Linked DNA regions of Homo sapiens: region 2 is linked to region 1. A link means that fine-mapping ties the variant in region 1 to the expression of a gene that starts in the linked region. Tissue or cell type: whole blood. Region 1 holds a variant in brackets; the other region holds the start of a gene. All regions are shown on one strand. Distances are from middle to middle.

Region 1 (5,000 bases):
CCCCTTCTGCCCCTCACTCCAGCCCTCTAATTTTTCCCCATGTCTCTGTCTCTAACATGCTCTGTCCATTTTGTCTGCCTCCCTCCACTAAAATGTAAGCTCTGGATGGCAGAGATTTTGAGCTGTCTTGTTCCTTGCTGTATCCCCAGCAATTAAGAGTAGTATCTGGCATGTGGAGGTAGTAGCCTGATACGTATTTCAATGAATGAGTGAGCGAATGTGCCTGGGCCACTTTCCGGGGGTCTCCTGGCAGGCCCAAGGGGAGCAGCTCATTGCCCTTGAACTGGCCCCCCTGGGGGTCCGTGCTCCCCACCCCTGATGACTTGTCTTGTTCTCCCTGGCTCCTCAGCCAGTGCTGCCCCACACCGCCGTGTGCCTTGTGTGTGGCGAGGCGGGGAAGGAAGACACGGTGGAAGAGGAGGAAGGCAAGTTTAACCTCATGCTCATGGAGTGCTCCATCTGCAATGAAATCATCCACCCTGGATGCCTTAAGGTGAGTGGCCCAGTGGGGACAGGTGGTGCTGACGCTCTGGGGCAGGTAGGGTTGCTGGAGATGCTGGTGAGATGGTGGGATGCAGGTCGTGCAGTGAATTCCTGGAGGACCCCTGAGTCTGGGTGATCCTGTGTGTCAAGGGATAAGCCCGGGGCAAGGAGGGCCTGGAGTACCTCAGAGACCCAGTGTCATCAAAGGAATAAACACACCCCCACCTCCCAGGATGTCAGAACCAGAGAGGGTTTCCAGAGCCTCAGCAGATGGCAAACACAGGCTGCTTGTTTGTAGCTGGGCCAGAGGAAGCGCCTCCAGGTGGCTCCAGGCTTCTGGGAGAACAAGGCCCCACACCACACTCCTTCCCCCAGCACCCAGTAGAGTCCTCTGCAGAGTCCTTTCTGCATGCCAGGCGCTGAGCTCATGGCTTTACCTGGGTCATACCCCCCCAGTGAGATGGGCACACTAACTTTTATGGCCGAGGGCACCAGCCCACAGAGACGGAGTGTCTTGCCCAGGGTCCCAGAGAAGCAAAGGGGCTCAGCCTCTGAACCCTGGCCTGGATCCACAGCTGCCCGTCTCTGCCAGCCTCTGCAGCTGTGTTTTCTTTTGCCTGGAAACGGGATAGATGTGACGTTGGGGAGGGGGTGCTGCTGCTTCTGGAAGACGTGGCGTCACAGAGCCTTGTGCCCGTGGGCCATCTTCTCCGCCCGTCCCTCTTCTGAGTCCTGGTGTTCCCCGCAGATTAAGGAGTCAGAGGGTGTGGTCAACGACGAGCTTCCAAACTGCTGGGAGTGTCCGAAGTGTAACCACGCCGGCAAGACCGGGAAAGTGAGTGCCGGGCTCCAAGTCCCAGGGTCAGTCGGGAGAGGGGCGGGCCTGGGCCTGGCCGGGACCAGCCTGTCCCAGGAGTTTCAGGCAGGTGGGTTGCCGTCGGCCTGGGGAGGAGGAAGGGCAAGTCCAAAGGTATACAGTTGGTCTGTTCATTCTCTCTTTTTGGCCTACAAGCAAAAGCGTGGCCCTGGCTTTAAGTACGCCTCCAACCTGCCCGGCTCCCTGCTCAAGGAGCAGAAGATGAACCGGGACAACAAGGAAGGGCAGGAACCTGCCAAGCGGAGGAGTGAGTGTGAGGAGGCGCCCCGGCGCAGGTCGGATGAGCACTCGAAGAAGGTGCCGCCGGACGGCCTTCTGCGCAGAAAGTCTGACGACGTGCACCTGAGGAAGAAGCGGAAATACGAGAAGCCCCAGGAGCTGAGTGGACGCAAGCGGGTACGGACCAGGAGGGGCTGGGAGGCAAAGGGGTTGGTCTGGCTGGTCCCGGGTGCTGGGTTGGAGGGATGGGGCAGGGGGTGGGCAGCAGGTAGAGCTTGGGATAATCCCGGCCTCTTGCTGCCCTGAGCAGGTCACCTAAGTCCTGAGAGCCCTGCCCCAAAGAAAGGAGGGGAAAACCAGCGAGTCACTCCTCTTCCCACTCCACCCCCCTTTAGGCCTCATCGCTTCAAACGTCCCCCGGTTCCTCCTCTCACCTCTCGCCGAGGCCCCCTCTAGGCAGCAGCCTCAGCCCCTGGTGGAGATCCAGTCTCACTTACTTCCAGCAGCAGGTGCTCCCACGACGCACGCCCTCCTGAGGCCCCGGGGACTGGCGAGTCCTGGGCTGTCCCCCACCCCACCCCGCTGGTCCTCCACCCCACTGCTGCCTCTCCTGAGGCTTCCCAGGTCTCGGCCCCAGATCTCTGGCTCGTGGTTCTGGCTTGGGGCCTGGGAAGCTGTCTGTGCCTAGAGCCTCTGTTGGTTGGGATGGAAGCTGTGAGTCCAGGGAACCTCTGAGGAGCCTGGTGGCCCTGCTCCACCCACGGGCCG[T/C]GCTGTCACCAGCCACAAGGTGGCGCCAGGAGTCTCTCCCAGCTCTAGCCATTCCTGCTGGGCCGGGGATTCCCACAGGGCTGTGCTCCAGAACTGGCTCCCAGAGCCGAGGATGATTTGAATGGGCGGCTGCACATCTCCAGGTCTGTGGGGTGGGAGGTCAGTTGGGTGGGAACAGTTCAACTGTACTCCTACTTCCAGCTTCTTCCTTGAAAGCTGCAGGCAGGGCTCGCCCGTCTGTCGGTCAGACGTGGAGATGGCATTTGTGGGGAAGGCCTCCCTCCAGCCCCTCCTCTGGAGACTGTGGACTCGTGGTGGGGTGGGGTGTCGAGGAGACCAAATCCCACGAGCCCGGGGAGCAAGCTCTGCGTCCTTTCTTTTTCGTGACAGCTCAAACCTGGCAAAGAAGATAAGCTTTTCAGGAAAAAGGTACCATCTTCCCCTCCCTCCTGTGCCCCAGGCCTGAGCGGTTAGAGCTGCACCGCAGCTCCCTGGGCCACAGTCCCGTGGCAGGGGGGCGGGAGGCCTTGGGCGGGCGCAGCCCTGAGCCCCAGAGGCTGACGCGTCTCCGCTCTCGCCCTCAGCGGCGGTCCTGGAAGAACGCCGAGGACCGCATGGCGCTGGCCAACAAGCCCCTCCGGCGCTTCAAGCAGGAACCCGAGGACGAACTGCCCGAGGCGCCCCCCAAGACCAGGGAGAGCGACCACTCCCGCTCCAGCTCCCCCACCGCGGGACCCAGCACCGAAGGGGCCGAGGGCCCGGAGGAGAAGAAGAAGGTGAAGATGCGCCGGAAGCGGCGGCTTCCCAACAAGGAGCTGAGCAGGGAGCTGAGCAAGGAGCTCAACCACGAGATCCAGAGGACGGAGAACAGCCTGGCCAACGAGAACCAGCAGCCCATCAAGTCGGAGCCTGAGAGCGAGGGCGAGGAGCCCAAGCGGCCCCCGGGCATCTGCGAGCGTCCCCACCGCTTCAGCAAGGGGCTCAACGGCACCCCCCGGGAGCTGCGGCACCAGCTGGGGCCCAGCCTGCGCAGCCCGCCCCGTGTCATCTCCCGGCCCCCACCCTCCGTGTCCCCGCCCAAGTGTATCCAGATGGAGCGCCATGTGATCCGGCCACCCCCCATCAGCCCCCCGCCTGACTCGCTACCCCTGGACGATGGGGCAGCCCACGTCATGCACAGGGAGGTGTGGATGGCCGTCTTCAGCTACCTCAGCCACCAAGACCTGTGTGTGTGCATGCGGGTCTGCAGGACCTGGAACCGCTGGTGAGCGGCGGCCTGTGTAGGGCTCTAGGTTAAGGCTCAGGCGGCACCAGGGATGGCCCGTGGTGTGTGGAGTCGCTGGCGATGCTCTTTCCTTCCAAACCCCAGTATGGCTTCATTGTGCTCCGCAAAGCGTTCCAGCTGGCTACAGCGGCCCCTCTGGTCTTGTCAGAGGAGGTGACCCCGTTTATTCCGATTTAGCTTCCTGGAGGGTGAAGTGAGGACCACGTGGAGTCCTTGGCTTCGGAGAGTTAGTCCAGGTTTCCAGCAAGGCTGCGAGTTGCAACTTCAGTCCAGCCGATATTTACCAGCTTTCTGGCCTTAGCTCTGCCTTACCCTCTTGGATGAACGGGCATGACGCCAGCTTCATGGGGGTTGTTTGGAGGAACGGCCGGTAGAGGGCGTTGTAAAGCCCATGGTAAATACTTGATGGAGGCCGGGCGCAGTGGCTCATGCCTGTAATCCTAGCGCTTTGCGGGCGGATCACTTGAAGTCAGGAGTTCAAGACCAGCCTGGCCAACAAGGTGAAACCTCATTTCTACTAAAAATAAAAAAATTAGCCGGGTGTGGTGGCGCACACCTGTAATCCCAGCTACTCGGGAGGCTGAGGCAGGAGAATAGCTTGAACCTGGGAGACGGAGGTTGTGGTGAGCAGAGATTGCACCACTACACACCAGCCTGGGAACAGAGCGAGACTCCGTCTTAATACATACATACATACTTGATGGAGAGTGGAGGCCATGGCTGTTAGAGCAGGTGGGAGGTGCCCGCGTGGGGGCAGGATAGGTGCTACATAGAGAAGGGTCCAGAGCGCTGAGTTAAGGAGCCTCCCAGAGGTTGTTAGGTGGGGACAGTTAAGAGCTGTGTGTGGGCTCCCTAGAGGAGCCCCACCTCTGACGATGTGTCCCCACGGGGCCGGTCCCCAGGTGCTGCGATAAGCGGTTGTGGACCCGCATTGACCTGAACCACTGCAAGTCTATCACACCCCTGATGCTGAGTGGCATCATCCGGCGACAGCCCGTCTCCCTCGACCTCAGCTGGACCAATATCTCCAAGAAGCAGCTGAGCTGGCTCATCAACCGGCTGCCTGGTGAGCCCTGGGCCAGTGGCCCCGAGTGTGTCTGCTGCAGTGAGGGCTGGGGACACATCCCCTGACCTTCACCCTTTTCTATGTCCCCCCAGGGCTCCGGGACTTGGTGCTGTCAGGCTGCTCATGGATCGCGGTCTCGGCCCTTTGCAGCTCCAGTTGTCCGCTGCTCCGGACCCTGGATGTCCAGTGGGTGGAGGGACTAAAGGATGCCCAGATGCGGGATCTCCTGTCCCCGCCCACAGACAACAGGCCAGGTGAGTTGCCAGGCTGGGGGTTTCTGTGGGGGTGGGGTGAGCGAGCTA
Region 2 (5,129 bases), 140 kb before region 1:
AGGCTGATTTGATACAGGGTCCCCCTAATCAACCTTCCACAAACATTTGTGGAATGAATGAAGGGTCCATGGGGAAAGGGGGCCAAGGATATCAGCAAAGGTTTCCTAGAAGAGGCCATCTGATTACAGTGTGAATGCTTGCAGTGTTAGCCCTTAAACCACTCTCTCTGAGTGCCTGCCAAGGGCATGGCACTGCGTAGACTCCTGGGGATACCAGTTGGATATGAGGTTGTCCCACCTGCTCAGATCTTACAAATAAACTTCTCAAGGACAAATAGTTGGTGATAGGGTAGGAATCCTGAGACGTGGATGATCACTTTCAGATATATATTCTACTGACAGACTCAAGCACAAAGCTGCAATCCCTTATAGCTCTGTTTGCAATAGAAAAAGATTGAAAACCATCTAAAAGTTAGGGAACTAATTAAATCATTCTTGCACCATTTATCTGCCCAATGAAATGCTATGAAATCATTAGAAAGAATAAGGAAACTATAGCTGATGTGCTATAGCATTCCACATATGCTGATGTGGAATGATTAGATATCCTTAAATTAAAACAAAACAGGGCCAGGTGTGGTGGCTTACGGCTGTAATCTCAGCACTTTGGGAGGCCGAGGTGGGAGGAACACTTGAGCCTAGGAGTTGGAGACCAGCCTGGGCAACACGGCAAAACCCTGTCTCTACCAAAAATACAAAAATTAGCTGGGCATGGTGGTGCACTCCTGTAGTCTCAGCTACTTGGAAGGCTAAGGTGGAGCATTGCTGAGTCCAGGAGGTGGAGGTTGCAGTGAGCTGAGATTGTGTCACTGCACTCCAGCCTGGGCAACAGAGCAAGACCCTCTCTCAAAAAAAAGAAAAGAAAAATCAGGAGTTATGATAATCATATATGAATATGAGAACAACTTCAATTTCTTATCAAGATTCTGGTTTCTGAGAGCTACATCCAGTGTCCACCCTTTCCTTGGGAAGCTGCAGGTCCATCGTCCTACCCAGCCTCGAGTATGCCCCAATCTGCATGCCCCACGCTGCATCTTCTTTTCTCTAGCCTCTCTGTCTTTGGGCACAGAGTTGCTCAATCAACCTTTGATGAATGAAGAATGAATGGGGGTAACTCAGGCAGGATTTGACTGGGCCCTTTGTAAGATCGAGCAGGAGGGTCCAGGAAATAATTATTATTATGTTTCCAATACAACCGGCCCGGTGTTTTCCTGCAAGAAAAAGTACATCTCTGGGGTAAGCACCTTCACCTTCTCTCTTCCCTTACCTACTCTCCACTTCTCTGGGACAATTAGTCAACACTGGGAGCTCCAGGGTCTTGGCCCTTCCCCCTTTGGTCCAAAATAACCTCCTCCCCCACTTTGAGCAAATGCTTGGAATTCTTTCAACTGGAGGACAAAGCCTTTCATCTGCCAATTACTGATAAAGAGAAAATGCAAATATCGAGGGGGAAGGTGATTCATCAAGGGCCCAACATTTATTGAGTGGCCACTTAGGACCCGGCAGCAGGGCAGGCATTCTGGGGGAGGCCAAGGGGAACAAACCCCCGGCTGGCCCATTCTTTTCTCGTGTTTGCGGTTTCCTCGAGGTTTGTAAAGGGGGGGGATTAAATGAGGTGACTACCCAGCCCCTTCCCACTCTGACAGGCCAGGAACTCCTCGTGGAGGTGATAGATGGACTTAACTGTTTTTATACTAAGGTGGCTGCCATTGGACCTTTTTCTGATGCCAGCTTTTGGGGCCACTATGAGGCCACTTGGAGAGAAAGAAGGGCCTCAGGGAGAAAAAAGAATTAATTAGATGAAGCATTCTATTATATATTTTTTGCTTTATTTCACTTAATTCACTTTGCGTCACTCTCCAGCCCATGCAGCCTCCTTTGAACATGTTTATTTCATTATGGGGCAGTAGTGAGGCTGGTAAGTTACTAAAAAAAAAAAAAAAAAAAAAAAAAGCACGTGATGGCCAAGCCAGGCTCCAGTGTGAGCCCTGGCAGCGGCACATACGCGCTATGTGATCCTGGGTGAGTGGCTTTGCTTTTCTTAGTCCTAATTTCCTCCTTTGCAAAATGGGAACGAACAAGACGATTTCCCTTAAAGGGTTCTTGTGAGAAAGACAGGAACAAATAAAATGGTCCATGGTTCTGGACGGACTGAAGGCAGAACCGGCAGCACTCACACGAAGGGCTACTGATTGCACGCAGCAGCCAACGTGGGCGATTTCAGTTTGGAAACAAATTTTGATGTTTCCCAGCCTCATCCCTGCTTAAAAGATTTTTACAGCTAGTGAACATGAATGAAAACAAACTTCAAAGAGTAGCCTTTGAGGATGGGTGGGAAAGACTACAGTCAGATAGGACAGGAAACTTCTAAGGTGAGTGAGGGGGAAGCTGTCTCTTAGGACGGCCAATACGATGCTGATAGTGACATCGTATCTCCTGGTGGGGAAGCCACGTCCTCCCCACAGGTCTGTCTGATAGCCTGGGGACCATATGGGAGCACAGCAATCATTCAGATTCATAATTTCTCTGAGCTTCAGTTTCCCTATCTGCAAAATGACCTGCTCCAAGTATCCCACAGGGTTATGGCAGAAATAAAATGTCAGGCTCAAAGCCTGCTATCTACAATGTCCCTTTATCGTCTCCCTCTTGCCATGTCATTTTATCAGCATCTTTACCCGCAAGATCAGGCCTAGCAGGGCGCCACAGCTGGGGCTGGAGGAATGTTTAGGGCTAGCTTTTCTCAAGCCAAGTCGACCTGACTGTTGCTCATGATGGGAGGACAAGACAACCCAGGACCAGTGCTGGGGTAGTCAAAAACACTAGTAAGTGGACAGGGACCTAATGACACCCATGTATGTACGGAGGGTGCCGATACCTCCGCTAAGAAGCCCTGTAGGGGCTTCATCAAGGGCACTAGAGTTCCCCCCACCTATCCCAGAGCACCATGCACCTTTCCACCGACTTGTCTTCTATAAACTACCAACAAGGGCTTACCCTTCGCTCCTGTGCGGGCTGCGTTAGGAGGCGCCAGATCCAATTCTCTGCGTCTTTCGCTCCTGAGCATCTATCTGCTCCCCTTGCCGAGCGCAAGAACCTTTAAAAAATGTCCAACTTCTGTTTCAGGGCTGGTCGCCTAGTAAAGGAGTCCACAGAGGCGGGCAGAATGAATGAATGAAAGGCAACGTCTTCCGGTCAGCTGCGGACTGCAAAGGCTCTGGTCTGGCTGTATTTCCTGTACGTGTGTGTGTCCACATCTTTGAGTGCCGGGAGTTTAAAAGTTAGGCAGTCCTTATAGGTATGGAAGCCGAGCTAATTTCCTTCTGAGCCCCCCAAATGCCTCCTCCACATGGCGGGTCCGCAAATGGGGGGATCTGCAGAGGATCACCCCCCACGAAAAAGACATGCAGCAGAAAAGCAAAAAAAGAAAACAGTTATATATACAAAATGCTTTGAATTTGAGTCGGCCACACAGGTAATGTTGGGGGAGGGGTGGATGAAAGAAGAGGAAGAGGGGTAGCCCTGGGCAATGAGGGCAGGAACGGAGGTGGGGGGTCGTTTTTGGGGGTGCCAGGCCCCGGGGGCTTTCACGCCAGCATGCTCGGCTTGCATTTCCGCGCCTCCCGCTGAGGCCAGCCGTGCAAATCTGCACCTCCCTCCCCGCCCCCTCCTCCTTCCCTCCCTCCCTGCCCCGCCATCTCCGGGATGCGCCCGCCGCCTGCAACTCGGCCCTCCAAAAGTCAGCTCTGCACACAACTCCCGGGCGGCGGCGGCGCCTGCGTGCAGAGGCGCACTCGTGACCCAACAACAAAACAGCGATGCCACGGCGCTAACGGCGCCCGGTGCCTCCCGGGCTCCCTCCCCGCCCCATACCTCCTCGGGCCGCCGCCCCCACCCCCCCAAGCCCGGGCCGAGAGCCCCCCCAAATAGCCCGGCCGCGGGCTCCGAGCGCGATCGGCAACAATGTTTACGTTCCGGGGATTATGACGTCGACGCCTCCCCCCCCCCACAACTGCTGAAAATGGTTTCCTAGGACTTTGCAAACGGATCTGCCTAAGTGTTGGTGCAAAACTTTGTAGATCTCGGCTCTGGCTTGCTTTATTTATTTATTTTTTGGTTTGTTTTCTTTGGTCTTCCCTCCTTCCCCCCTCGGCCAAAATGCAGGGGGCAGGAGTGTTGACAATTAATTGGTGAACTCTCCTAAAAAAATGGAGGCAGAGAAAGACTCTGGAAGAAGATTGGTGTGTAGCTTTTTTTTTTTTTTTTTTTTTCCAAATCTGTATCTGGCATATGATAGATCTTTTTTTTTTTTTTTTTGGTTGTTTCTCGCTGCCTTTTCTTTCCTTTTCTGTATTTTGCAAGAGGACCGGGAAAAAAATATAATAAATTGCATGCAAAAGGAAGCAAGCTGCTTACTCCTCCAGCCCCTTGTGAGGCTTAGAGTCTCAGACACTTAAGTGGGGAGGTGGTATCGGGGAAAGGCGTGGAGGGGGGCTGAGCGGGCTCGGGGTTCGCCCGGAATCTGGGGGGCTGAGGGGCCGGGCGCTGGGCGGTGGAGGGAGGAGGCAGGGGGATGCGGGGAGTGGTGGGGGAGTCTCCTTAGGAAGTGAGTGTGCGCGCGCGCTTGTGGGGAGATGAGGCAGCTGCTGGTGCGTTTTGGGGTCTCCGATCCGAGCTTTGTGGCGGGCCGTCTGCCTCTCCCCCTTCCAAGCCCCGATTCTCCTCCCCCCACCTCCTCTTCTTGCACTGGCGGGCGGGCGGCGGGGGCGGCTGGGGTCTCAGCCCTTCCATTTCAGCTTTCCAGCTTCCCCGGTAGCTCGGGGGCGGCTCCAGCTTTAGAAATGCCGCCGGCCCCCGGTTCCGGCTTCCCGGCTCTGCCGCCGCGGCCGCTGGGGCTGCTGTTACCGCCGAGCCGGGCGCCGCAGCGGCTCCTCCTGGGGCCTACATTTGCCCCGCCAGCCCGTGTCCGGAGCCCCCTTCGCGGGTTACATAACCAGGCTCCCGGCCGAGTGGGCGAAGCCCAGCACATTTCGGGGGCGGGGGGCAGGGGAGGGTCCCCAGATGTCCCTTCAGTGCTTCCGAAGACACCGGAGGGGAGTACCCCGCGTAGAGCGCAGCTGGACCCTCGGGGT

Evidence for each region. PIP is the estimated chance that this variant, and not a neighbour inherited with it, causes the effect.
Region 2: KDM2B starts here. The variant in region 1 is fine-mapped to the expression of KDM2B in whole blood (TOPMed, PIP 0.99).

Annotation. Positions count from the first base shown.
Region 1 is chr12:121,440,768-121,445,767 of GRCh38, reverse strand. It overlaps KDM2B (lysine demethylase 2B), which reads left to right. Exons shown (of 23, transcript NM_032590.5): 14 at 350-493; 15 at 1,232-1,318; 16 at 1,496-1,756; 17 at 1,975-2,088; 18 at 2,738-2,776; 19 at 2,932-3,611; 20 at 4,535-4,698; 21 at 4,791-4,952. MIR7107 (microRNA 7107) reads left to right here and starts at 1,416; the gene lies at 1,416-1,495. The variant T/C (reference allele first, on the strand shown) is at 2,348.
Region 2 is chr12:121,579,129-121,584,257 of GRCh38, reverse strand. It overlaps KDM2B (lysine demethylase 2B), which reads left to right and starts at 3,235. Exons shown (of 23, transcript NM_032590.5): 1 at 3,235-3,472. The coding sequence starts at 3,347. KDM2B-DT (KDM2B divergent transcript) reads right to left here and starts at 3,747. Exons shown (of 4, transcript NR_183427.1): 1 at 2,995-3,747. RefSeq lists enhancers at 205-1,138, 1,139-2,074, 3,010-3,945 and silencers at 3,515-3,564, 3,645-3,954, 5,114-5,129.